Linked DNA regions of Homo sapiens. The protein of the gene in region 1 interacts with the protein of each later gene in a pairwise test. Each region holds a gene or a part of one and is shown in the gene's direction. Other genes may lie near its edges. The genes, in order: ACOT7, POU6F1, ACOT12 and CAMK2B.

The links.
Region 2: the proteins of ACOT7 (region 1) and POU6F1 interact in binary tests that used the Homo sapiens proteins (3 or more experiments, as listed by UniProt).
Region 3: the proteins of ACOT7 (region 1) and ACOT12 interact in binary tests that used the Homo sapiens proteins (3 or more experiments, as listed by UniProt).
Region 4: the proteins of ACOT7 (region 1) and CAMK2B interact in binary tests that used the Homo sapiens proteins (3 or more experiments, as listed by UniProt).

The regions. Positions count from the first base shown.
Region 1 is NC_000001.11:6,264,756-6,271,779, reverse strand, and holds part of ACOT7 (cytosolic acyl coenzyme A thioester hydrolase), read left to right. Parts: intron 1-7,024. UniProt on the Homo sapiens protein: Catalyzes the hydrolysis of acyl-CoAs into free fatty acids and coenzyme A (CoASH), regulating their respective intracellular levels.
Region 2 is NC_000012.12:51,215,042-51,222,429, reverse strand, and holds the start of POU6F1 (POU domain, class 6, transcription factor 1), read left to right. Parts: upstream 1-4,367; 5' UTR 4,368-4,788; intron 4,789-5,124; exon of another isoform or gene 5,125-5,324; intron 5,325-7,388. UniProt on the Homo sapiens protein: Transcription factor that binds preferentially to a variant of the octamer motif (5'-ATGATAAT-3').
Region 3 is NC_000005.10:81,391,122-81,398,080, reverse strand, and holds the start of ACOT12 (acetyl-coenzyme A thioesterase), read left to right. Parts: upstream 1-3,946; 5' UTR 3,947-3,966; coding exon 3,967-4,093; intron 4,094-6,959. UniProt on the Homo sapiens protein: Catalyzes the hydrolysis of acyl-CoAs into free fatty acids and coenzyme A (CoASH), regulating their respective intracellular levels. Preferentially hydrolyzes acetyl-CoA.
Region 4 is NC_000007.14:44,217,586-44,224,609, reverse strand, and holds part of CAMK2B (calcium/calmodulin-dependent protein kinase type II subunit beta), read left to right. Parts: intron 1-3,708; coding exon 3,709-3,784; coding exon of another isoform or gene 3,785-3,788; intron 3,789-3,899; coding exon 3,900-3,994; intron 3,995-4,315; coding exon 4,316-4,548; 3' UTR 4,549-4,550; intron 4,551-5,087; 3' UTR 5,088-7,024. UniProt on the Homo sapiens protein: Calcium/calmodulin-dependent protein kinase that functions autonomously after Ca(2+)/calmodulin-binding and autophosphorylation, and is involved in dendritic spine and synapse formation, neuronal plasticity and regulation of sarcoplasmic reticulum Ca(2+) transport in skeletal muscle.

The DNA.
Region 1 (7,024 bases):
CTGGTGAGGGTGTTTATGACTCTCCACAATGATCTCATTATTTGAGACTTCCGGCTGCTTTCTGCTGGAGGCTGGTGCAGTCCTGGGTGGGTGTGGAGGAGGAGGTAATTAACCCAGGCCTGCAGCTGCTGGGAGAGGCCACAGCGGATGGCGGAGAGGCCACAGCGGATGGCGGACAGGCTCCGCTAAGGCAAGGTCCTCAGGTGGAGCAAGACCCTGGGGGCACAGGTGCTTGTGAGGCTGGTGGTCCTGGTGCTAAGCTCATCATTGCTGGCTTCTCCATGCACAAGGCCCCTCGCCCGGCCGTGCTGAGTGTCCTCAATAATGAGATGTTTTCATTGCTTTTGTGATTATCCCAAGACCCCTCTTGTCTCCTGTTATAACAGGGAGAGGGCATGCTACGTGGCTTCCTAATTAAGAAGGTCTGTGTCCCTCAGGCTTACAGGAAGTTGTTATATCACCACTGGAAACCCTTTTTACGCCATTCATTAATTACAAAAAGGACAAGCTATTGATTTTACCGAGGGTGGAACTTAGTCACTCGTCCTCCATACCATGTTCCAAATGTGTGTTCTCCAAGCACAGAAAATGCAAAGTGGAAAACATTTGGTTTGCAGCACTTGGCTCTGAAAGCCACAGGCTTCCCCTCCAGTGGAAGAGAGCCCAGAAGACAGCAGTGGCAGGAAGCACTAAGTGGAGGGAGGAAAAAGATGCAGACCCCAGGCCCAGGCAGCCACTAGGCTGCAGGGGAGCCAGGGGCTTGGTGCTGAGTGCCAGGCGGTGCTCCCTGAGCACCAGGGAGGGAGCGTACTGTCAACCTGCTACCTTGGGACCCTCCCCACCCCTGCGTCCCCATGTGTGGGTGTGACATCCTAAAGGGCCCGCTGCGTTAAGGTGACCCCGGGCCATCTGGCCCTCCTTTGGGGCAGCCACACACCAGCAGGACAGTCCTTGGAGCAGTTCCCAGGCTGCACTTGGCCTCAGGTATTTCTGAGGACAGCAGGACCACCACACAGACACACACACATGCACCAGGGACCGCAGACACATGTGCACACACACGTAGGAGCTCACGTGCACCGGCACCATAGGAAGCACTTTGCCATGTCACTTTGTTGAGTTCCTGTTTCCAGGTGAACAAACCTGGCCCTGGGCCACACAGCTGGGCCCGTGGGACTCAGAGTCCTGCTCCTGGCCATGCTGCCCCATCCCTTCCATCAGGCAGGTGCCCGGGATACATGGGGGTCATGTGCCCTGAGCTGCCCTTTGCCACCTCATCCTTTCTCTCTGGCATATTCTTGGGGAGCCCCAGAGGCTCGGAGGAGCCTGCCTGAGGCCACAGGTGGGTGCCCGGCAGCTGGCACCACTGGCCAGTGCCCCAGAGGCTCCAGTCCTTCCCCCACCAGCAGCCTCGGGGACTTGAGAGAGACATCTGTCTTCCCGCAGAGCGTTCTTTCGTCCTCCACCCACCCCCAACCCTCCATTAAAAACAGCAACAGCCAACAGCGTATGCATTTATTTACTTTGCTGGGTGGAGGGAGATGGCTGCGAGGAGGCAGCAGCCGGGCCGTGGGTGGGGCCTTGTGCTGGAGACATCTGTCTTGCTCTGTCAGCTTCTCACCCAGCGGGACAGGGTGGCCCCTTTGTCACTTGGGTAGGAGAACTATTTAGCAAAGCCATGACCTGGGGAGGCTGGCTGCCCACCAGCAGTGAGCCCGTAACCTACCATGGGACAGACACCGCCCCGCGGCCCTTTGTTCCACCTCCCCCTGGGTGGTGAGCCTGGGTCCTCAGGCACCTGGGACATCCCTGCCCTTGACTGCCATCTTCATAAACCTTCACCCTGGAAGGGCGCCCCTGGGCACTCAGGGAGGAAGGCCGCCCGCACCTTGGGAGGGCAGCGCTTATGGGCGGGCACTCCACGCAGTGACGTTGAGGCTCCTGGGCTGGTCTGGACTCTGTCTCAGAGCCTGGAACATCCAGCAGATACTACCATCCCGGGAGACGGGAAGAGCAGTGGGGCCCTCACAGGCTCTCAGGCTCCCACACATCCATCCATCATCAGACAGCATTTGCTTTGTCTGAGGGCAGAGCCTGGCTGATGAGTTTGCTGCAAATATTAAAGAGCAGGGCCACATCAGAGCCGCCTTGGGGCCCGTTGCTGGGCACCAGATTCTCCCTCAGCCTGGAGCCGACCCTGAGAATGACCTGCACCTGGGCTCGTGCCCGCCTCAGGCTGTGTATTAACTGACCTCGAGAGAAGCAGTCACAGCCCTCGGCCTGTGGCATTGGGAATGCTCGATGGCCTGGTGGCCGCTGGGGTGGGAGCAGCTGTAGTGGTTTGGGATAATATGGCTGAGGGCAGGGCAGGGCCCCCGCCTGGGGGAGGCCAAGCTCAGCAAGTGCTCCTAGGCTGTGCCGAGGGCCGGGGTGAGGTGAGGGGAGGCAGGGAAGCCCCTGACCCTGGTTCATCGTGGACACGCTGCAGGTCCATCGCCTTCCTCACTTCCCATGGACGAGTCCCACCCCTAAAAGTCCCTCGGCATAGGACGACCTGGAGGGCAGCCCCCATGCCCAGGTTTAAATGGAGGCTCTCCCCTTACCCGCTGTGTCACTTTGGGCAAGTTACTCAGCCTGTCTGTGCTTCACTTCCTCATTGGTAAAAGTGGACAATCATTTCTGTGCTGCTTGGTGGGGTTGTTGGGAAGACCCTGATGTGCACAGCCTGCCGCGCCCTAAGCATGGGTTGCGCAGGGAATATCCCCTTATCGCTGTAGTCCCTGCCCCACGTGCACAGCCCATGTGGGGGCAAAGGGGTGGGAGGGCTCTCGTCTGCAGTGCCTTCTGCAGACCCAGAGTTGGGTGGTCCTCCCACGCCCTCGGCGGCTGGAGGGCTGTGGTCACATCTCTGGTAAAGATGCCGAGAGCTGTAGGAAGTTACTCCTATTCCACTCCCAGGTGGTCATGGAGGCCAGATCGTTAGGGGACTCGAGGGCTCCGCTCCACTGCTGCGTGTGGCTGGCAGAGGTGAGGACCGGGCTGTATGAAGCCCTGGAGGTTTTCTCGCTCTTGGGCGGAGATCTCCCTGCCGTTCGGGCCGTGCCGCGTGCGTGGGGCCTGGGGCCCATCACACACCTATGAACTGGACCAGAAGGAGCATGGTCCTGAGTTAGCTCTTAGCGCCTCTTGGCGGGGAGTGGGGAAAATCGCGCCTGTGCACAGCCCAGACGGCTCCCTCAGCTCTGCCCGCAGCCCACCGCTTGTAAAGCCAAGTCCCCGTCTCTTTGGGGCCTGGAGATCATTGGTGCCTAGGGAAGAAAGGAGGGGCTGGTTTTCCTAGATCTAGGTCTAGTTAGTTTTTTGCTTTTCTAGCTTTTTAATTATAGAAAAGGTCAAATATACGCAAAAGTAAAGAGAAGAAAGAATTCCTGTGTAGTTATTAGCTCAGGGCCAGTCTTATGCGTTGACAGCCCTGACTACTCCCCCACCACAGAGAGCTCTCAACTGTGGAGGTTTTCTCTTTTAACAGCTTTACTGAGATGTAATTACATGCCGTTCTGTTCACCCACTTCCAGGATACGATTCAGCAGGTTTTCTTCTATTCACAGAGGTGGACATCCCCCGCCACAGTCTATTTCAAAACCTTTTATCTCACCAAAAAGAAGCACCACCCCTTAGCCACCACTGGTCCCCCAGCCCCAGGCAACCGCCAATCCACTTTCTGCCTCTGTGTATATGTCTCTCCTGGACATCTCGTGTAAATGGGTGATAGGCAGACCCTGTGACCGGCTTCTTTCACTGTGTTGTTTTTAATGCCTGGTTGAACATGGGCTGCAGGGAGAAATTTGGTCCCCGCAACTCTGCTGTGAGGTGGACATTGGCCCATTTTACAAAAGAGGAGTCGATGTGAGTCAGTGGTGAATCAGGATTCACACCCGGCTCCAGGGTTGAAGATGCTGGGCTGGTTTCCAGGCGGAATGAAGAGACCATCCCAGGAAGGGCACACAGCATGGTTGGGTCCCAAGGTGGGCAAGCCTCTGCCTGAAGCAGCCCATCCCAGAGGCGGGGCAGAGCTTGGTTCCTTATGAAAGGGATCCCTGGCCAGCTCAGTTTGAGAAAGGCGAAAGTTAAACAGATTTGAGACGTTTCAGAACCTTCATCCCAGTGTGCATTGTTTATTGTAAGAGGCCATTTAGTGCATAGATCCCCAAACCTGCCTGGTACAGACCATCAGAGAGGCATCATCTCCCAGTGGAGTTGGGGAGGGAGCCCAGAGGATCTGCAGACACAGACAGGCAGGCAGGCAGGCAGGCAGGCATCTCCTGACCTGGCAGCCCTTCCTCAGCCCCTCTCCAGGGCCCTGGCCTTGGACGGGCCATTCCCACCAGCCCCCCAGGACACCCATGGTAACAGCTCCTAAGCTGGTGGCGTTGGCTCCGCAGAGCCATTTGCCACCTCTCTTGGCCCCTCCTGGTCCTCTGGTACCTGAGAGCATGTGGCTGGGGACTCAGGCACTTGGGGACCAAGTTTCTCGCCAGTCTCCCACATCTGCACATTCCCAGGAAGTTGCCTCTCCTCAGGCCGGACCTGGCTCCTGTGGGCTGGGTGGGGGCTTCAGCTGTGTCCCTTCTCACTCCAGCTGCCTTTCCTGGGCCAGGCTCGCTCTCTCCTGCTTTCAAGGATTCTTTTTCTTTCCAAGCTCCTTGCCGTCTTTCCTCTCTGTGGAGGGCAGATACTCCACCAGCTAGAGGGAGGACCCGAGCCGAGGGGCCAGGCTTTCAGACTGGGAGGCGCCTGAGTGCGATCCAGCCTGCCCGTCCCCAGCTCTCCTGCTCCCAACCCGATGTCTCCCAGGGCTGCCACAGCCACTCCAAAGCCAGCAGAACCCAGTACCAACCCCACCAGGTCCTGTTGCCTTGTCGCCCAGCTCTGGGACCCCATGCCCACCCTACAGCTCTTGCTCTGCCTGCTACAGGGTCTTCAAGGTAGGCAGGAAGCCAGGCTGTGGGCGGCCGCTCCTCTGCTGAGCCTCGGCCTTGCCGCTGCAGGCAGACAAGAAGCTGCAGCTTCCCTCCACATCACCAAGCAATTCCACAGGGGAAGGGGAGGACAAGGCCCCTATATCCCATCCTGGTGGCTTTGACCTTGCATTCTTGGCCACTTCAGATGTGCCCCATTTGGGGCAGCGGCAGATGGAAAGGGGGCAGGGCCCTGCTACACAGATGTGGTCCGCGGGCCACAGCGTTGTGTCACCTGGGATCCTGTTAGAAGTGAGTCTCAGCTCCCAGACCCACTGGATCAGAATCTGCATTTACAAGACTGGCAGATGACTCAGATGCACTTAAAAGTTCAAGAAGCCCTGATCTAGCACATTCTGCCTCAGTGTGCACAGAGGTCTTCAGCTGTGCCCAGCAGGATGTAGCCATGTATGTCTTCAGGGGAGCTTGTCATCTGCAGGGGCTGCGCTCTGTGCCCTCCAAGCCCAGGAAGCTCAGGGGTCTTGCCCACTGAGAAGTGCTGCTGGAACTGAGAAAGAACATTTCATTTTCCCTGGACTGTTTCAGGTCAAATTGCATAGCCTCAAATTTTATTTTTAAAAGTCAGCCAGAGATCAAACCGTAGCAGCGGGAGGGACTTCTTCAATAAAGTGTCTTGGAAAAGCAGTTTTCCTGTGTACACCGAAGACTCTTCAAAGGGGGACCAGGACCGCTGCAAGGAGCGCCACCTATTTCTTTAAATACCCGAAGATTCCATTGGCTCCAGGCCGGCGAGGTTTTGACAGTTTACACCTGGTGACATTTAGAGACTGATTTTGGAGAGAGCTGAGGGGAGGAGGCATTTGGTATAACTTGACATTACATCCTCTGGCTGACTGCGCTCTCTCTTGCCAATATACCATTTGTCTATGAAACACTTAGGCCCAAAAATAGCTGTACAGTTTGGTGTCATTGTGGATGAAATGAAGGGCAACTGCCCCATCTCTTTGGCTTTCAGACACCCTCAAAATGTTGCGATGAAATGTCCCAGAGGAATTAGCACAGCTCATTAAACCTGAATTCCCAGCCAGGGTGGGGCCAGTCAGAACATGGCGTTGGGACAGATGGGACATCAGAAGTGACCACCTAATACTCCAGGGGTGGCACCTGCCCAGGGGCCACAAGACAGAGTGAAAGGGGGTGCCGTTCATAATCGCAGCCCGTCGACAGGCATGAACCAGGACCGTCCTGGGCAGAACCCCGTCTTGGGCCAAATCCCACCTGTTCAGTTGGCTCTGCCCCCAGACCAATGAGATGGGGTCCCTGGGGTCCAAGGTGCCGCCTCCTGAGTGTACGGTCCAGAGCGTGGTGACAGGGCTCCCTCCCAACAAAGCAGGCCTATTGCTCCCAGTACGGGGCGGGGCCTTCTCAAGGCCATAGGCAGCACAGCATCTGCCCACTTCTCGCTGGGGCAATGGCCGTGTGCAGCTGGCTTTCCCCACTTCTCTCCGGGGCGGTGACCGTGTGCAGCTGGCTTTCCCCACGTCTCTCTGGGGCAGTGACCGTGTGCAGCTGGCTTTCCCCACTTCTCTGCGGGGTGGTGACTGTGTGCAGCTTTCCTGGGAGTGCAGCGAATGCAGGGTCCCTCTTCCTTTCCACTTCCGTTCAGCTCCCATGTTTCATTATCAAGTGCATTTTCCACCGAAGTCCAGTAGCAAACAGGCCCTGGGCTTGGAGGTCACCTGCTGTGAAAGGTGGTGAGAGGATGTCACAGGGCTCGGCACTTCACTGACTGCTTCTGACCCGCCATGCCCTTAGTGTCTCCTCTATGGAGCTCTGCCACCTGTGGCTCCTGCGGCCCCTCAAAGCATCTTGGCTGAACATACCCAGCCCAGTCAATAGGCCCATCAGCGAGGTGGGACATGAGCCCCATGCCTGGGCTACCCGGCAGTCCCAGGAGGCCAGCGGGGCCGAGGCGTGGTACTCAGCATGCACCAGGGGTGGGGCAGATCCCACGGGTGGGGGGCAGGGCCCCAGGCCAGGTCACA
Region 2 (7,388 bases), on another chromosome or scaffold:
GATGGGTCTTAGTCCGTTTGGGCTGTTATAACAAAATACTATAGGTCGGGTGCAGTGGCTCACGCCTGTAATCCCAGCACTTTGGGAGGCCGAAGCAGGTGGATCACCTGAGGTCAGGAGTTCAAAACCAGCCTGGCCAACATGGTGAAGACTCATCTCTACTAAAAATACAAAAATTAGCCGGGCATCGTGGTGCATGCCCGTAATCCTAGCTACTCGAGAGGCTGAGACAGGAGAATAGCTTGAACCCGGGAAGTGGAGGTTGCAGTGAGCCAAGGTCTCATCACTGCACTCCAGCCTGGGTGACAGAGCAAGACTCTGTCTCAAAAAAAAGTAAAATTTTAAAATAAAAATAATAAAATATTAGGCCAGGCGTGGCGGCTCACACCTGTAATCCTAGCAATTTGGGAGGTGGAGGCAGGCGGATCACCTGATGTCAGAAGTTTGACATCAGCCTGGCCAACATGGTGAAACCCTGTCTCTACTAAAAATACAAAAATTAGCTGGGCACGGTGGCACATGCCTGCAATCCCAGCTACTTGGGAGGCTGAGGCAGGAGAATCGCTTGAACCCAGGAGGCAGAGGTTGCAGTGAGTGGAGATCGTGCCACTGCACTCCATCCTGGGCTAAAGAGTGAGACTCTGTCTCAACAACAACAACAACAAAAGCCAGGTGCGGTCTTTGGCATGCCCAGGCAAAAAAAGAAAAAAAAATTTTTTAAGTAATATACTTTGTTTTTTGTTTTTGAGACGGAGTCTCACTCTGTCACTGAGGCTGGAGTGCAGTGGCACCGTGTCGGCTCACTGTAACCTCCGTCTCCTGGGTTCAAGCAATTCTCCTGCCTCAGCCTCCCGAGTAGCTGGGATTACAGGAGCCCACCACCACGCCCGGCTAGTTTTTATATTTTTAGTAGAGACGGGGTTTCACCATGTTGGCCAGGCTGCTCTCGAACTCCTGACCTCAGGCGATCCACCCGCCTCAGCCTCCCAAAGTGCTGGGATTATAGGCATGAGCCACAGCGCCCAGCCAAAAAGTAATAAACTTTCATTGCAAGAAGACTACCAATACCACATACTGGTGAGGATGTAAAACAATTAGAACTCTCTCATGCATTGCTGATAAAGATATAAATTGGTTCAAACACTATAGAAAACTATTTAGCAGTATGGACAAAAGCTAAATAAAATAGAATAGCTATTCTACTCCTCAGTATTTACCTGGAAGAAATAAGTGCATATGTTCACCAAAATACTTGTACAAGAATGCTCATAGCAGTTTTATTCCTAAGAGGCCCAAACAACAAGCAAATGCCCATCAATAATGGAATGGATAAATTGTAGTATAATTATGCAATGGAATACTACACAGCAATAAAAAATACTTCTACATTCAACAACATGGATGAATCTCAAAAACATATATTGAGGCCGGGTGTGGTGGCCGACACCTGTAATCCCAGCACTTTGGGAGGCCGAGGAGGGCGGATGACTTGAGGTCAGGAGTTCGAGACCAGCCTGGCCAACATGGTGAAACCCTGTGTCTACCAAAAGTATAAAAAATTAGCTGGGAGCGTGGTGGCTCATGCCTGTAATCCCAGCACTTTAGGAGGCTGAGGTGGGCGGATCATGAGGTCAGGAGTTCAAGACCAGCCTGACCAACATGGTGAAACCCCATCTCTACTAAAAATACAAAAATTAGCCGGGCATGGTGGCGTGTGCTTGTAATCCCAGCTACTCAGGAGGCTGAGGCAGGAGAATCACTCGAACCTAGGAGGTGGAGGTTGCAGTGAGCTGAGATCACACCATTGCACTCCAGCCTGGGCGACAGAGCGAGACTCCATCTCGAAAAAAAAAAGAAAAAAAAAATTAGCTGGGCGTGATGGCACGCACCTGCAGTCCCAGCTACTTGGGAGGCTGAGGCAGGAGAACCACTTGAACCCGAGAGGCGGAGGTTGCAGTGAGCCGAGATCACACCACTGCACTCCAGCCTGGGCGACAGAGCAAGACTCCGTCTCAAAAAAAAAAATTTTGTTGAGTGACAGAAGCCAAACACAAAAGATTGCATATTGTCTGATTCCATTTATGAGAAGTTCAAGAATCAGCTCAAGTAATCAATCTATGGTGACAGAAATCAGAATAATGGTTACTTTGGGAATTTATGGCCGGTGAAGGTACATAAGGGAATCCTCAGGTCTTGGAAAGGCTCTATATCTTGTTTTGGGTGGGGATTACATGGATATATATATGTGTGTGAGTATATACATGTATATATAGACATGTATATATGTATACACGTATCTATACACGTGTATATATGTATACACACACACGTACATATGTATACACACACATACACGTACATATGTACACACACATATACACGTACATATGTATACACACATATACACGTACATATGTATACACACATATACACGTACATATGTATACACACATACACGTACATATGTATACACACACATACACGTACATATGTATACACACACATACATACACGTACATATGTATACACACATACATACACGTACATATGTATACACACATACATACACGTACATATGTATATACATGTAAAAATTTATCAAGGTATACACATACTGTGTACATGTTATGCCCCAATAAACACAGAAACAAAAAGTAATATATGCTCATCAAATATTTAAGCAATGCAGAAGTGTATACAACATAAAGAAAACCGTGATTAACATTTTTATGTATGTCTCCCTGAACTCCTCTGATCACATCCATATTTCTTTCTTCAAACTGTCGCTGATATCCATGCTATCCAAAGCCTTTGATCTATGTGTAGCACCAAACCAAGTGACATAAATGAAAAGTTTCAACCTTCATGTGACAAAGTTCAGCAGCAATACTGAGCCCCTCCTTCACATAAAGAGTAGTGGGAAATACAAACATGAGTAAGTCACAACCAGTGCTCTCAAAGAATTCACAGTCCAGGGAGAGAAACTACAGGGACTACCGGCCAAACAAAAACCCCAAGAACTGTAATATCAAGCCACGCAGTAGAGTTTCACAGGGCCATTAAAACGAGTTCAAACTATTGTACAAGGAATGACACCTTACAGTTGTATAGAGCTTGCAGCTTTCAGTTTTTTCACATACAGGCTCACAAACTTAACCCTATGAAGTAGTCATTATAAATGTCATTATAAATATTATCCTTGTTTTATAAGTAATGAAGAAGTTAAATTACTTGCCTGGACGGCTAGTGGAAGAGTTGGGACTAAAACCTAAGTATTCTGACTCCTAATACATTGGTTACTCATAAATCCGCCGCCAGCAGTACCTGCTCACTTCCAGATGGAAACAGCAAGCTGATAACAGCCTAGTCCACTGGCCAGGTTAACGACGAGGCCGGGCCATTCAATGCCCTTCCACCACGAGGCCTTACGGAGCAGTCCCGGGGAGGACTGAGGCCTCCAACTGCATTCTCACACTGCCTCTAACCCATCTACCTCTAGCTATCCTCAGACCACCAAATATCGGGAGAGGGTGGGAGGGGGAACAGCCTAGGATGACAGCAGGTGGCCTCAGTATTGGGATCCACATTCACTGGATTTACAGAGCCTCCTTCCTTCCCAGTTCTTCTCTCCATTCCCACGCTTCCACTTTGGTCTTCCAACTTTTTCCTCTTTCAGTTGTCCACCACTTCTCCAATCTGCTTTCCCTCAGCCACCCACATCCACCCCTTTTCTGGTCCCCTCTCTACCTTAAGAAGCTGCTAGAGGTTTTTCACCATTCCACTGAACTTTGTCTTTCTGTTCACATTTCCTTGTCTACTTGGACAAGAAGGCCGGAAATCTGCTTTTAGACAACACAGCCCACGGCCGCCACCGGGTGAGAGACCTGGGACCCTTCGCTGCTTTGGCGCTGGGGCACAGCTGTTCAGAGGTTCTCCACGTTGGCTGAGCGATGTCTGAGTTCCCCCGCCTTTCTAGGGAGGGAGGGATAGACATAAACTTGACTTTCAACATTGAGGACAGTTGACTACCTAGAGGAAAGGCGGTGGCCGGGAGTCACCGCCCCAACCCTCAGCTGAAGGCCATGTGGCATGGAGGGTCCGGACTCCAGCTCCTACTCTGGCACCTTCCGAAATGAAACCACCTCCGCGGCACCTCGGAGGGGCTGAGTAACCAGACCCACTGACCGTCCATCCCTGTCCCGGGAGAGAGCCTCCGGGACCTCCCGCTCGGCCAGGGCCAGAGGGTCCCCTCCCCACCCCCACCCCTCGCTCCTGGCTCCCGTGCTCCCCTCCCTTCCCTGACCGCCCTCCCAGCCCGCCGCCCCCGGCGGCTGGCGCGGGCGGTGCAGCATGCGGCAAAGCTCTTTGCATAAATTATGCTCATGACGCAGCAGCTAAAAAAATCCAAGTAGCAGAAGGAGGGAAAAAAGGGGGGGAGGGAAAAGGGGGGGGTCGTGGAAGGGGGAACGAAGAAAAATATATACCTGACCGCCCCCCCACCCGGCTTCCCCTTCCCGCTTCCCGGCCGTCCCCTCTCCGCCCGGCTTAGCCTGCGGAGCCCCCTTCGGCTCTGCCCAGCCCAGGCTGGGGGCCTGGGGGCGGCGGCGGGTCCCGACCAGCTCCCGGGCCGAGCCGAGCCCAGCCAAGCCGCACTGGCTTCTTTGTCTGCGGGCGGCGGCCGCCGTGGCCCCGGCCCCGGCCCCGGCCCCCTGGCCCGGGCTGTGAGATGAATCTCTAATCGGTGGCCGCCAGACACCCGCGGCGAAGGCGGCTCGGGCTCGGGCTCCGGTAAGTAGCGGGGTCCGGGGCGGGGAGGGGTTTGCACGGAGGGGGAGGGGGCCGGGCAGGGGAGGTTTCGGGTTTGGTTAATATGCAATGCCCGTAATTAGCATAATTTATATATTTATGATAAAGAGAAAAAAAGCCGCGGGGCCGGGGCGGCGGGATGCTGGGCCGGGGCGGCGGGGAGCTGCGGGAGCGGGACAGCGCGCGGTTGCCCAGCTGGGGCTAGACACCCGGGGGCCGCGCCCTCGCCCGCCCGCGGGCCGCTCTGGACCTGGAGCGGAGGGGGCGGCCGCCAGGTGGACCCGGTGGGGAACCCCGACCTGGCCCCTCCCCGTTTCTGCCCCTGGAGCCCTTGTGGGGTGCGGACCACAGGGGACGCTCTGTACACAGAACCAGTGGCGACCAGAAGCGGATCCTTGCCTCTCTGGAGAACACGGACGCCTGGGTTCCCGGCGGTTAGGGCCAGCTGGGGCGGCCAGGGTGACCTGTCACGGTTCTCCCGAATGAACAAACTCCGGGACGACCGGTGGGACCCGGGGGTAGGGACCCAGGCGTTGCTGGAAGGGTGGGTCAGTGATGGGAGGGCCACCTTCTAGCAGAGCATGAGCACTTCATAAATATTTAATATCGATATTATTATTAATAAATAGTCATAATAATGGGCCCGATGCAGGCTCCCTGGGCAGGCTCACCTGGCAAGGCCAAGGGAGCTCCCAGCATACCCTCTAACCTCCACTTTCGCGGCAGAATACCCCACTCAGCCCGACTGGAAGCCTAAAACCTTCACAGAATAGCCTCTGCGGCTGGGCAGGGGGAAATCAGAAGAGTTCGGGAAGCATTCCTGGGCCAAAGAAAAGAGGCTCTTTGCAGAGATTTTTAACCTCATCTGCCCTTCCCAAATTCCTTGTTCCAAAAGTAGAGGGCTGGTCTTCAATTGTTCATATACATGTGTCCCATGCCCCTTATTTAGCAATCTAAGGCAGCCACCATTGACTGGCAGAGGCCTTCTGAGGAATAATTCCATATATTCCATTTTCATTCAAGTCCTGGTCCTCAAAGTGATACTTCTGTGACCTGGTACTCCGCTTATCTGCTGTAGAACTTCATTTCTTCATTAGTTCAACAAAAATACCCACTCAGTGCCATGCTCTGAACAATTCAGACAAAACTTCTATCATGGAGTTTTTATTCTGGGGGTGGACAAGTAGATGCTAAACATTAAAACTAACAAGGTAATACCATAGAGTGATTGTGTGTCAGTGTGTGTGTATGTAGCCATTTATTCTGTTTTGTTCCTGGAAGTACTAGCTGGCAGTTAAGAAAAGTGACTCAGAAAAAATTTGCTCCTGTAAGGTTTTTCTGCATTTTGAAGGAACTTGGGATAAGCTCATATTCTTGTCCCCAAGATTTACTCACCATAAAATTATCAGAGTAATCTTTTACATTTTCTTTTTTTTGAGACAGAGTCTAGCTGATTTTTTTGTATCTTAGTAGAGATGGGGTTTCACCGTGTTGCCCAGGCTGGTCTCGAACTCCTTAGCTCAGGCAATCCAACCGTCTTGGCCTCCCAAAGTGCTGGGATTACAGGCGTGAGCCACCGTGCCTGGCCATCTTTTACATTTTTAAAATGCTTTATAATTTAAAACATTTTTATATGCATGCTTTACTTCAGTTCAAAATAATAGCAATGATAATAACAAACATATATATAGTGTTTGCTTCATGCTAGGCCCTGTTTTAAGTGCCTTCCATAAATATTATCAATTTAATCCTCACAATAACCCATGAGGTGGTTACTATAATTTGGTTCCATTTTGGATAAGGAAACGGAGGCTTATAGGGATTACCTCTAGTAGAAGCAGTACTCAAGCTGGGTCTTCTGCCTTTAAACCTGCCTTTGACCCCTCATGTCAAAATGAGGGTTCATGAGGCAGAAGAGAGAGTGGGATGCAGGAGAAACTGGCCACAGGAGGAAGGCTTGGAATGAGAAATTAGACGGGCGCTTTAGGAAGGGGCCAGTGTGGTCTGGGTTCTCCAGAACCCAATACTACACCTTGGAAATCTCTCTTTTTTTTTTTTTTTTTTTTTTGAGACAGGGTTTCACTCTGTCGCTCAGTCTGGAGTGCAGTGGCGCGATCTTGGTCTCACTGCAACCTCCACCTCCCGGGTTCAAGCAATTCTCCCACCTCGGCCTCCCAACTAGCTGGAACTATAGGCGCACACCACCATGCCTGGCTAATTTTTGTATTTTCAGTAGAGACGGGGTTTCACCATGTTGGCCAAGCTGGTCTTGAACTTCTGACCTCAAGTAATCCGCCCGCCTCGGCCTCCCAAAGTGCTAGGATTACAGACGTGAACCACCACACCCGGCCTGTACCACGTCTTTGAAATCATTTTTAAGTAGCCCCAGTACTGGAAATGGAGGCAAAACATTTGAAGTAGGGTGTGTGTTTTGAGGGAAAAGGTAGGAAATAATAAGAGGCTAAGTGATGTGGCTATGACGTGACCTCGTATCTTCAATTGTTTTCAGCCCATATTCATGAACCTAGTTATATACCAGATATTATCTTAGGCACCAGGGATATGATGATAAGCAGACATGA
Region 3 (6,959 bases), on another chromosome or scaffold:
CTCCAACATATTCACAGGCAGTGGTGGTGACCGCAAAGGGACTCCACTGAGCAGTAATCAATGGCCTGGGATGAAAGTGGGGCCAAACAAATCTGGGGAAGCAGAAAAATTAGATTCTATACACATGGCTTTTGTTCAAACAAAATAAAGCTCTGTACTCCACACAAATGTGGTGGCTGTTAGGTTCTACACCTAATGCTTGACAGAAAGAAGGGGCCACCGGAAGTGCAGGGACAAACAGGAGCAAGGTTATCTTGAGGCTCCAGGTGCTAAGAGGGACAGTCCAAGCAGAAAACCCATTCCCCAAAGTCACTGCCATCCCTAGAGCAGGGTTCAGGGGCAGAGAAGGACAGGAGACCCTCCAGTCAAGAAGTTGGCGGCCAAAAGCTGAGAAAACCCATCCTGGAATTTTTGCTTAGGGGCTCTGAGTTTAAACTTTGAACCACATCCTTATAAATTTGTATTTGAATTTGGAAACACTGACCTGACACCTTTTAAAACATACCAAATGTAGAGAGAGAGTTTGATGGCTAATCAAGTTCATCTCTGTATGAAGTACTTGAACTAGCAAACCCTCTGTCTGGGACATATCTCCCACAATGGAAAGGCTCCCGGCTGCCTCTGCTGTTCAGGACAGTAAGGATTTTGGCTCTCTGCCTTGCCCACATGGCCACGGCACTCACCATTCTGAGTCCTAGTCCAAGCTGACAGCGTCTTCCTGTCCTACTGAGATAAAGCTCCAGCTGAAAGCTTGCTCTTGCTCTGAAATCTGCAGAAGTCCTGGGGAGTTCATCTCCTGGGACCAGCCCTTAGTCAATGAAGGATGCCAGTCAGAGGATAAAAACCCCAGGGTTCATGCCAGTGGGAGGGATGGCTGGGGCTGTTCTTCACAAACTGTAATGTGCCCCTGAATCACCTAGGAATCTTAATAAAATTTAGACTCTAATTCAGTAGGTCTGAGTTGGAGCCTGAAATTCTGCATTTATAATTTTTTCTTTTCTTTTCTTTTCGAGACAGGGTCTCACTGTGTCACTCAGACTGAAGTGCAGTGGCCCAATCATGGCTCACTGCAGCCTCGACCTCCTGGGCTCAAGCAATCCTCCCACCTCAGCCTCCCAAAGTAGCTGGGACCACAGGCATATGCTACCTTTCCTGGCTAATTTTTAAATTTTTTTTTTTTTTTTATAGAGACAAGGTCTCTCTATGTTACTCAGGCTGGTCTCAAACTCCTAGGATGAAGTGATCCTCCTGCCTCAGCATCCCAAAGTGCTGGGATTATAAGCATGAGCCAACACTCCCGGCCTGAGATTCTGCATTTCTAAGAGGATCCTAGGTGAGGCTGAGGCTGCTTACCTGGGGACTACACTTTGATGCCCCTACCAGTGCTTTCTGCAATTTCCTCCCAAATAAACTGTCTGCTCTCAAATTCTTGTCAGAGGCTCTGTTTCTGGAGAAAGCATTTTTTTTTCTACCTCTCTACTTATATTCCAGGTTCCTTGTTCTTAGTTTTCACAAAACCCAGCCACTACCTTACAATGTGACCCAAGGAAATCACTTCATTTCCTCATCTCTAGAATAAGAGTTTAGACTGTCCAGTTCCCCTTCCCACTCCAGCATTTTAAAGATTTTCTCGTTATTCTAGTGATTGTGGAACTTCCCACACTTTTTTGGATCAGCTTTCCTGCTCCTGTGTACAAACTTTTAAAATCAAGCTGGCTTCACATTCTGCTTATCTTCAAAAATGTCTCTAAACACAAATGAAACTCGACCTTTTATTCAAGCATAATAGTAAAAATCTTTGACACCAGAGAGAAATGGAGGTAACAAATGTTCATGCATGCAGATGACATTTTCATTGTAAAAGGAAGAAAGGGACCATTCAGAAAAACACAAGAATAGTAAAATGAAAATTAGTATGAAACCAACAAAAGATATGAAACCATAATCTGAAGACATCTAAACAGGAGATAATAAAGATAAGAAAACACAGCAGTGAATTTGTGTACCATGTCTGCTTTTAAAGCAACATCTCTAGACAAACACACAAATATACACATGCTGTCCCCTTCAAGAAAATCATTTTGGAAACCCATCCTCTTACACTTATGCGTAAACATTTTTGAAATTTCTTCTTCTTTTTCTTTTTTTTTTTTTTTTTTTTTGAGACTCAAGCTCACTGCAACCTCTGCCTTTTTGGCTCAAGTGATCCTCCTGCCTCAGCCTCCTGAGTAGCTGGGACCACAGGGACACACCACCACGCCCAACTAATTCTTGTATTTTTGGTAGAGAGAGGGTTTCACCATGTTGCTCAGGCTGGTCTTGAACTCCTGAGCTCAAGCAATTTACCTAACCTCAGCCTCCCAAAGTGCTGGGATTATAGGCATGAGCCACTGCGCCTGGCCTAAGTTTCTTTAGTTTATAAGAAACCAAGTATACAACCATACACATAATTCAATATCACCACTTTAGTCACCACTTTTTACCCAAAATAATACAACCCAGCCTAAATGCAAACTTTATTTCCAGTAATTTAATAAACTTCCCAAATATTAATACAGTTCACTCATGTAACTGTCAGCTATTGCTGCATAACAGACAACCCCCAAAATCACAGTGGCACACAACAATAAGTAGTTATGTCTCACTCAAGAGTCTTCATGTCTGCTGGGTTGCTCTGCTTCAGGCTGTGAGTCCTCCGGCTGGCTGAGATGCCTCTGCAATACGTGAATTCAGTCTGGTACCCAGATGCTAATAGGCAGCTACTTGACCTCATGGCAGAGGTCAGATGTTCCTGAGAACAGAAACACGGTGCTTCTAAAGGCAAGACTGGTGGTACACTGCTATCTCTCCACATTCCATTCTTAAGCAAGCCACATGGCCAAGTCCAAGGTCAATAAATGACTCTCACAGAGTTATTGGTAGATGGAGTGAATATATGATAATCTATCAATTCCTAAATTATGATTTCTCAATACAGAAGTCATTAAAAAGGCATTTTCCAAGGAGGAGTGCCAAAAGCGATGTAATAACGTTATCATTGAAATAAGTGTATAGCTACATAATGGGACCATCTTGGATGCACAAGTTTTTGTTTGCTTTTAAAAGTTATTTTAATGCCTTTTATATAAGTCAGACTTCATGCTTGCCTCAGTGAAAACATGCAATTCCTATTTATGATTGGATTGTCCTGAAACCTATACACAGAGGCTCCTAAAAGCTATCAAGTCAACATTTCCTTATTTCTTCACTTTCATTTTAAAAAAAATCTTTTAAAAAGGAAAGAAAAATACCAGAATCTCCATTCTGATGTCGCCATGCTGAGGCTTGGCAAGCCAAAAATATAAGGATGAAAAGGCACCACCAATTCGTGAGAGTCGGCTAGGCTTCTTCGTGCTATTCCGGACAGTCAGGAGCCCTGGGTTCCAGCCAGGTGATCGGGTCGCTTATCGGCTCCTATCACCTCAGCTGCTTGCTCCACTTCTCCGGGTTTCCAGTTCTCCATCGTAAATGTGCTCCCTGGAGCAGCCTCCCCTGACAGTCAGACATCCACCAATCCATTAGATGCTGGAGGTTTTCTGGAGACACTGTTTCCCTAATGAGGACTGCTTTGTACAGTCACTGATAGCAGCTCTAGAAAGTGTAACAGCTTTTTTATCTCAAAAGCTGTTCCTCGCGCTCCGGCTCTCGGGGAGCCGCCTTCCAGACCTGTCTACCCGGGAGCCCCCTCCCCGCGCACTTCCCAGACTTCTCCTGAGACCCGAGAGCGCTGGTTTTCCCCCACTCGCGATAGTCCTGGGATGACAGTGCGGGCCCCCTCACTCGCAGCTCCCACCACCTGGCGGCCAGGGGTTCGCGGCCCGGGCGGGCGGCGCCAGTGCCCTCTGGAGCTGGGCGGGGAGGGCGGGGCGGGCGGAGCGGGCATGGTGGGGTGTCGGGGGCCGCAGGCGTAGCGCTCTCGCCCTGGCCATGGAGCGGCCGGCGCCCGGCGAGGTGGTCATGAGCCAAGCCATCCAGCCGGCGCACGCCACTGCGCGCGGCGAGCTGAGCGCGGGGCAGCTGCTCAAGTGGATCGACACCACCGCCTGCCTGGCGGGTAGGCGGGCGCCGGGGCTGCGGGGAGGCGCGGGACCGGGGCTGCGGGAGCGGCGGCGGCTGGGGGCTGGGGGGGGTAGGAAGGCGAGGAAGGTACTTGCGGAGAGCTGAACCCTGCGCAGCCAGGGATAGGGGTGTTGCAACAGTGCGCCCGCGCTGGGCATGGCCGAGACCGGTGGTTCCCAAATGTGTGGCTCTCGGGACTCCTTCATTCCATTAAACAAGTGAGGAGCCCAGAGAGCTTCTGCGGGGTTTTTTGTTTGTTTGTTTGTTGTTGTTGTTGTTGAGCTCTCTCCCGGGCTGGAGAGCGGTGGCGCCATCAGAGGTCGCTGCAGCCTCGACCTCCTGAGCTAAAGCGATCCTCCCACCTCAGCCTCCAGAGTAACTAGGACCACAGACGCACGCCACCAGGCCCAGCTGACTTTGGGAGTTTTGTTTTGTTTTGCTTTTGTAGAGATGGGGTCTCACTATGTTGCCCAGGCTGGTCTCAAACGCCTGGACTCAAGTGATCCTGAAGTGTTGGGAGGCCCCAGCCTCCCAAAGTGTTGGGATTACAGGCATGAGCCACCGCACCCAGGCAGCTTTTGTTTATGTAGGCTATTTATATCACATTTACCGTAATGGAAATTTAAAATTTTTAATTATTTTTAAAAAAGAAATGGACTACATTGTTAGCATAACATTTTTAATTAAGAAATAACTATTTTCCACAAGAACAAAAGTGTAGCGAGAGGAGTGGTGATAAAGGTTACATCCTGGCGAGTCTCTCTAAGGTCTGGCTAGTGGAGGATTGCTGACTACTCATACCTGCTTCTGCATTCACCCTGCTGCTACCACACCCTTATGTAGTCTCTGGAAAACTCCACTGTGTTCTTGTGACAGAATGACAGTAAAAATGGCAAAAACATTTATTAAGGACTGAATTATATCCCCCACACCACCCACCGAAATTTATACACTGAAGTCCTAACCCCTGGTGTGACTCTATTTGGAGTGAAGAATTAAGGCTAATGAGGTCATAAGAGTGGAATCCTGGTCCCATACAATTAATGTCCTTATAAGAAGAGACACTGGAGAGCTTCTCTCTGCCATGTGAGGCCACAGCAGGAAGACAGCCATCCACAGGCCAGGAAGAGAGCCCTCACTAGGACCTACAATGGGCAAGCACCTCGATTTGGAACTTCCCTGCCTCCACAATTGTGAGAAATCAATGATTCGTTTAAGCCTTTTTTTTTTTTAACAGGATTTGAGATTGGTTATATTAACAATGGAAACATGAATACAAAATTAATCCACACATAGGAAAAAAGAATAATACATAAACCACTGAGGTTGCTAATAATAATGATGCCTGTTTCCAAGGCAACTGAATACATTATGAGACCACTGAAGTGACTTTTAGTTACCTTGCTTAGTGCCTCTGTCTTGTGATGGAGAAACAATGGCCCACCTGCAATTGTCATCATTTCTATGACCTGACATCTTTGGAAACCATGGAAAGATCCAATTGACAATCAATTACTCTATACCTTAATAGTTACATTACTATTAGTAGTATAATATTAATAACTGATAATGTTACTAATATTAAGAAAACCTGTATGATAAAGTTGGTTTGGGCAACATGAATAACGCCTGTGTTAAACACTTTATGGTGACCTGAGGCACCACATAAGCAGGGGACATTATTTAGCCAAGGTGTAACTGAATCTGTGTAGTAATATAAAACTGATTTCTCTGGGATTTTCTCAGAGTTTTTTATAGGCCAGCATTATCTCTTTAGCCACATTACTGCAATCCCAGTCATGGCCCCCAAGGCATTTCTATGACCCCTAGGCACTGCTGGATTCCAAAATGTCTTCTCAATATTTAAAGAAAGATGAAATATTCTCACTATCCTTACTTCTGTCAGTGGCCCCATTATTTTTCCAGTCCCTTAAGTCTAAAGTCTTGAAGCTATCTGAGTAATCCTCTATCTCACACGTCCATGTATTATTTTGGAACATCTCACACACACGGTTTTTTATTTGTGAATCTTTTCCAGGGTTTACTATCTCTGGAGTGGCACCCAACTCATCTAGTTGAGCAAGTCAAAAGTCTAGGAGTCATCCTTGATATTTCTCTCTCCACCTTACTTCTCACTTCACATACTCTATGCATGGAGCAAGTCCTATCAGTGTTACCCCCTAAAGGAGTCTCTGAAATCCAAGCACTTTGCTGCACCCCCATTGCGACCATCTACTCCAAGCTATCATCATGTTTCATGCAGACTTCAGCAGTGATTTCCAAACTCATCTCCATTCGTTCTGGTCTCCTCTCCACACTGCTTCTAAAGTAATCTTTGAAGATGCTAATCTGATTGATCATGTCATATGTTTTGTTCATTTTTCCCTTTCTTTTCTTCACCAAGGGCTTTAAGGATTTTTCTAAGATGTTCAAGTGCTTCCTACTAAAAAATCTCCCACAGATAATAATTATAAACTCTGGGCAAAACACTAAATAAAAGAGACTTAAGGCAGGTGAAAAGTGAACAAAAGTAGGCTTATAACACTTGAAAGTTAACACATGAAAGAACAAAGTGGTGTTGGCTTTTTCTGTGTTTGTTTTATAAATGACTTGAAGCCTGAAAGAAAATGCCAGTCTGCTCCCAGCTATAGTTCTGATGGAAAACCCACAGGCTTGCTGGTTTGAAGAGCCCAAAGACAGGGTTTGGGAAAAGCACAGCTACTGAATGAAATACAAAAGGGAAAGTTCCAGAAAGGAAAGAGCCAGAGAGACAGAGCCCTAAAATCTATCTATAATCTTTTCCCAGATATCTGGCAAATCTTGAATCATGTATACATAGGACAGACTCCAAACCTCCTGGT
Region 4 (7,024 bases), on another chromosome or scaffold:
ACCTGGACGCATTAGGCCTGCCTGGACCTGTTGCCTCACCCCAAGAGAGCCACAGGCAATGCAAAGGCTCCTGTTCATGTCAGGGCACCTGGAAGGCCTGACTTGCAGAGGCTCTTGGCTCGTGCAGACCCCTCCAAGCCCAGGCCCTGCCCACCACCTCCCCTTTGTCTCTGGAACTGCCAGGACAGCTTGTCCTCAGCCAGCAGGTTTCCCGACCCGGGCACCTCTTCATGTTGGGCCCCCCTCCTTTCCCTCCATCAGGGATCATGCCCTTCTTCAGGGGCCTGGATATCAAGGACACAAAAGCTCCCATGTGCTATGTGGGGAGGCAGAGTGGGGGCTGGGTTGAGCTGGGGTCTGGGCAGCGCCATTCCGCAGGGCAGGGGCAGCCTAGGCTTCCCATCTGTGGAATGGGTGGGTGGGTCTCACAACGGACCTGCTTCCCGTACTTCAGCACGGTTACCACTCTTGATTGGAACTCTGACCATGCATCTCCTCTTCTGTTTACTTCACGCTTTCTCTTCCCATCAACTCCCATTTTAATTACAATTTGTTTAAAAGCACTGCATATTACTTCATTAAACAGAAGATTAGTTTCACTTACCATTAGTGTAAGGTGACTATAGAACCAAAGCAGACTGGAAACCAAATGACATAATGTCATTCTCTTCTCCATTCCAGCTGCCTGCTGCTGTGCGCCTGAGAACCCCTGTGGAGTGGGAGGGGCAGCTGTCTCTGTACATTAGAAAGGGAGGTTAACTAAGTGACAGGAGGTGTTTGGGACATGTGGACACCAGACTTCTCTCTTGATGCAAGGAGGGCAGAGCCAGGCAGCCTAGTGGGGGCTGGCTTGGGGGCTGCTGGAAGGACTGGCTACAGGTGGAAGAGAGGTCAGACCTGAAGCTTGGGGCCACCTCCAGGAAAGGACAGGTGAAAGTGGAGGCATGAGGCAGGGGAGAGGCAGGTGCCAGGCAGAGGGTGGAGAGGAGGCAGGAACATAGCAGCTGGGGCGGGGGCGGGCCTCAAGTGTCATATGCTACTTTCCTGGGGCCCAGGGGCAAGGACAGGAACAGCCACAGCATGTGTTGGGACAGAGCCCTGTGCCTTCCTAGAGCTGGGCAGGTGGAATGGGGCAGGAATGGGACTCGTGGTGGCTGCAGCAGGAACTGGAGGGGAAGGGGCTTCTGGATCCTGCAGCCTACCTTCCTAGAGGCCAGCTTTCCGGGGTCCACCAGGTGGGTGGGAACTGGGCTTGTGTAGCAAGACTGCCCTGAGGACCATCCATGACATGGTCTAGATGAAAGTTAGGAAAGAAAGGGAGACAAGCTGGCAGCAGAAGTACAGCTGGGTCAGGAGCAAGGGCCTTTCCAGATAGGGACAACCCAAGAGTGCACATGTGCCCACGCCACACAACACAGGCACACACGACACGTGCACGCTCATAGGCACTGCACACACACATGCACAGGTGCTCATGCATATGTATGAGCTTCATCTACACACATTCACATGCCGTCCTGCTTATGTGCATGTTTCCATACATGCACATGAATGCACAATCACGTGTACACACATGCATGTGATCACATACATGAACATGTGTGCACCCCACTCCTCAGGTGCCATCGGGCTCCTCCTGCTGTCACTGTGCAGCAGGGGACATGAGGCCCCAGAGCAGACAGGTGCAGCACAGGCGTTCCCAGGCAGTGCCCCACACACATGCATGAGCACACCCGGGCATGTGGCGCCTCCTTTGTGGACTCAGTCACCTGCCAGGTGGGCTCCCTGGTGGTGTGAGCTCCCAGAGGTCTGGCGAGAGAGATAAAGGCAACCCCACCACCAGGCGTGCTGAGAATTCCCTCTTCTGGCTGGGCACAGTGGCTCATACCTGTAATCCCAGCACTTTGGGAGGCCGAGGTGGGCAGATCACTTGAGGTTAGGAGTTTGAGACCAGCCTGGCCAATATGGTGAAACCTCATCTCCACTAAAAATATACACACACAAAAATTAGCTGGGTGTGGTGGTGTGCACCTGTAGTTCCAGCTACTCGGGAGGCTGAGGCAGGAGAATCGCTTGAACCTGGGAGTCAGAGACTGCAGTGAGCCGAGATCATGTCACTGCACTCCAGCCCGGGTGACAGAGTGAGACTCCATCTAAAAAAAAAAAAGAATTCCCTCCTCTGGGAATTTAGACCACAGACAGGTTGCATGTATGTGGCCGTTGGAGGCAGCACTCACAGCAAAGAGTGGAAACGTCACCACAGGGCCTGCCTTCTGGTGAAAATGGTGTCCTGCAGGGCGGGCAGCTGTTTGAGGGCAGGTGTCCCAGGTGCGGCCTGCAGCAGCCTGAGGGTCACAGAGCGCAGTGCTGGGAGTGCAGAGACTTCCCCCACAGGGAGAGTTCCCAGGAACCTGCTTCCGGTGCACTTCTGGGGGTTTGAGTTTTTTCCACGGACGAATTACTTTGAGAAACCACTGTTACTCGTGTGTATAGGTGAGCGTGCGTGTGCATGTGTGTTCTGTGTGTGAGTGTGCATGTATGTGCGTGCCTGCGTATATATCCTCGCAGATACGGCTAGGGACCTCACTCAGGACAGTAGTTCTGCCTGAGGAGAGTGAATGCGGCAAGATTGAGGAGAACACAGGCATCTTCAAACTACATGTGCGGTGCTTTATTTCTTTAAAAATGCGTCTAAAGCAAATAGGAAAATGTTAAGATTTGAATCCGTAGAGTGTGGGTTCTATTATTCTCTCCACATCTTCCATACGTTTAAAATCTTTTGCAATGAAAATAAGCTGTAGTTAAAGCAGCAATGCAGGCTGCCAGTGAGCGCCCCGGAGGCCAGTGAGGACCAGCATGGCTGGGTGGCCTGTTGGAATCCAAGGGGGGCGGGCAGGAGCTGCAGGCAGGCGCCCGGGAGTAGCCCGGGCATGGGGGTGCGGGGCAACAGGGATGTCTGCAGGGGTAGCATGTGGGCCCCGGACTGCAAGCAGGTGGAGCCAGCCGGATGCGGCTCCTATGAGAAAAGCGGGGAACAAGAGACCACGCTCGTTCTTCCTGCTGCGGGGACAGCCCTGGTCATCGCTCCGGGGAACCCTGCAGCCTGCGCCGCACGTGGCCGCCCCCTGCTGCTTCCTCCTCCCCGGCCTCCGGGTGGCCTTGCTGACGGCTCCTTCTCTGAGGCAGGTCTCTGCCTTCTCGCCTGGTGCCTGCACTCAGTAGCCCCCTCACCAGAGCTGCTGGGTGAAGGAAGCACTAAGAACCCAAGGCTCGGGAGGAGAGTGGGGCCGGGAAGCTGCAGGGAAGCGCAGGGCCAGGCCTGGTGGGCCCAGGGGCTGGCTCACGGGAGGGCAGGAGGGAGACTGTGGCGGACAGCACGTGGGGCCAGGAGGTGACCTCCAAGTGGATTGTGGGTGGGTTTTTTGTCCTCTTTCTGCATTTTCCAGGCATTTTGTAATGTGGATAGAATATTTCTGTTCTTCAAAAATACTTTAGTTAAGAAAAATAAGATGGAAGCTGTTGCACTTGAAAATGAGGAAGCCACTGGTGATGCAGGGGGGGCGGCGGAGAGGACCTCTTCTGCAAATAGCGGCAGGAACACGGCATGGATGCAGCTCGCGCTCCCCCAGGCCCTCCCCTGGGCTGTGTGGAGGGGTCCGGGGGGAATGGGCCAGCGCCCAGTGGTCACCTGGCCATGTCTCCCCACAGCCCGGAAGCAGGAGATCATTAAGACCACGGAGCAGCTCATCGAGGCCGTCAACAACGGTGACTTTGAGGCCTACGCGTGAGTCCCTGGGGCTGGGGGGGGGCTGTGCAGGACAAGGATGTGGGACCCTTGGGGGGGCCTGCTCAGAGTCAGGGGTCCACGGGGCCCCTCCTCACTTGGATTTGGCCCCCAGGAAAATCTGTGACCCAGGGCTGACCTCGTTTGAGCCTGAAGCACTGGGCAACCTGGTTGAAGGGATGGACTTCCACAGATTCTACTTCGAGAACCGTGAGTGAGGAAGCCCGGGTGGGCATGAGGGGGCGGTGCCCCCAGGAGAGCCTCTCGGCCCCTCCCAGGGACAGCATGGTGGCTGCCTATGGAAGCCCTGTCCCCTCTGTGCCCAGGGTTGGCCAGCCACCTCTCCCCCGCCAGAGGCCATACCCAGCCCCCAGAATCCCACTCTTGGAGGGGCCCATGCTGCTCCCAGGAGAGCCGAGCCTCCCCAATAAGGGGAGTTGAGAGAGGGAAAGGATTAGGCTGGTGGGGTGGAAGACGGGCACCAGGGCAGTCATGGTAACCCGAGACCCCCGCCCCGCCTGCTGTCCACAGTGCTGGCCAAGAACAGCAAGCCGATCCACACGACCATCCTGAACCCACACGTGCACGTCATTGGAGAGGATGCCGCCTGCATCGCTTACATCCGGCTCACGCAGTACATTGACGGGCAGGGCCGGCCCCGCACCAGCCAGTCTGAGGAGACCCGCGTGTGGCACCGCCGCGACGGCAAGTGGCAGAACGTGCACTTCCACTGCTCGGGCGCGCCTGTGGCCCCGCTGCAGTGAAGGTGAGTGTTCTGTGCTAAGTGACAGCTGGGGCAGAGGGGTGGCGGTGGTGTGAGTGGCTGCAGCCTGGGGAGGCGATGGGGAGCGGTGGGGCCTGTGCAGAGCCATGCCTGGGAAGTCCCTGAGCTTTCCTGGTGAGGCCACAGGAATGATGTCAAATTAGGGACCACGGCAGGCTGGGTGTGGCAGGCCTCCCCAGAGGACTGGGGAGCTGGTGAGGGCCTGAGCAGTCCACACTGGCCAGAGCTGGGTGGGTTGCAGGTGGATGGGCCCCGGGCAGCACAGTCCTGGGCACCATGCCCTGTTTGTGAGGACTGTTAGAGCCCCAGATGGGCGTTCCCCAGGTGGTGGGTGCAGCGGGCCCAGAGCCCAGTTTTACAGGGATAGTAGTAATTGGGTTGGGCACCTTGAACCTCTCTCCCGAGTGGGCCCTTTTCTGGACTTTAACCCTCTCTGCAGTGCCGCATGGCAGACAGCAGAGCCTGGGGGTGGATGGGAGAGGGGGCTGCTGAGGAGCTGACCCACCCGCCCCATTTCAGAGCTGCGCCCTGGTTTCGCCGGACAGAGTTGGTGTTTGGAGCCCGACTGCCCTCGGGCACACGGCCTGCCTGTCGCATGTTTGTGTCTGCCTCGTTCCCTCCCCTGGTGCCTGTGTCTGCAGAAAAACAAGACCAGATGTGATTTGTTAAAAAAAAACAAAAAAAAAAAAAAAAAAAACAAGATGACGACGACAACCACAAAAAAAATTGACATCAGATGAAATGAAAAAAAAAAAAAACAAAAAAAACTAAAGGAAGGAAAAAGCTGTAAAAATCACTGGCATTCGTGGGGCCACTCCCCACCCAAGCTCCACGTGTGTCCGTCTGTGCTCCTGGCCTCTGGGGGACCAGCTGGGACATGAACTTGTCTGCCAGGCCCCCGTCGCGTGCTGAACGGTGTTAGTTTGTAGGTAACGCACACACCCCACACCTAAGGTGTCTGCATCCTCCTGCCAACGCATGGGCTCCACGTGGTGTGCTCGCTGGCTGTCGTGACTGTCAGCTGTCTCTTGGGAGGGGCTGTGGGGGCCCGCTGGGCTGCCTCCTTTCCCGCTAGTTGTGCCTGAGAGTTGCTGTTGTTCCTGCTTTCCCTTCCCTTCCTTTCATCCCCTGAAGGGCTAGGTGTGGGTTTTCCGTGCCCGGTATCCCCACACACCCAGCACGGACAACCCTTCGGCAGAGCCCAGGCCGGCCCCTCACCCCCTGGAGTATTGAAACTGGAGTCCCGTCCCCAAGGCCTTCAGAGATGCCCCTACACACCCAGGGCTCCAGCTCTGGTCCTTCTGGGGGAGTAAAGTGCAAAGAGGGGCACAGCTTAGTTTTGGGCCTCTCGCCGAGCAAGAGACAGCACTGCTGGCTACAGCTCCAACACAGCCAGCTGTGGCAAGAGGACTCTGCCTGGGCTGGCCCCCCTCCTGTGTGAGGTGTCTGTCCCTTCTCTGCTGGCCAGCAGCAGATGCACTGGCAGCTCCCAACCCTGTTTCCGCCCCTCGGCCCTCCCCCAGCCTGTTCGGCTTCTCTGCAGCCCGCAAGGGGGAGCAGACTTTTGACAAAGGACTGCGGGCCTCGCTCAAGTCCCTGAGCCCCCAGCTGAAGCTGGGAGGGGAGGCCAGGCTTTGTGTCTGGGCATATTCGTCTGCTGATGGGGTTTGGGGAAGCCTGGGGCTTGGGGTTTGGTCGGGTGGTGCAGCTAGTGGCAGAGCGGGATCAGAGGTGGTGGCTGCCCAGCTTCTGGGCTGAGACAAGGGTCTGTGCAGGGGTTTACTGAAGTGGGAGTGCCTTTGGAATCTGGGCCGGGAGCAGAAGGGAGCAAAAGCTACAGTGGGAGCCAGCCTAGGGCACATGGGAGGCGTGAGGGCAGTGCTGCCCGTGCAGTGTCAGGTGTGCCAGTGCCTTGGCGGGCTGCAGTGCGTGTGAGGGCACCTTCTAGGTGGGCCAGGGATGCAGCTATGGAGATAAGGCGGGCTGGGGACAGAAACAGGTGGGCACAGGGCCCAGGACACCAGCGGATGGAGGGCAGGGTCTAGCCCTGTGCTCCTGAGCGTCGGCTGCCTGGGTTCGAGGCGGTGGGTCCCCGGCCCCTTGTGATGGTGTGTACCATGGGGGAGCTCGGGGACAGGGCAAGCCCGAGCATGGTGGGGCTGCAGGGTGGGTCTGAAGCCAGGTTGGGTGGGGGTGGTCACAAGCCCTGACTGCAGAGGGTCAGGGGCTCCTGCCCCAGTGCCTGCCCACTTTCAATTCACATTGTTTTCAACAAGGATTTTCTTTATCTTCCCCTACAAATCAAGCCAAGGGAGGGGCACAGAATGGGGAACAGGACACAGGATCCTAAACTCCAAGGGGACTGTCCACCGATGAACACTCAGAGTGGACACCATCTTCCGTCCACGCTGTGCCCAGGACAGCTGTCCCCATCCATGAACACAGGGTAAACATCT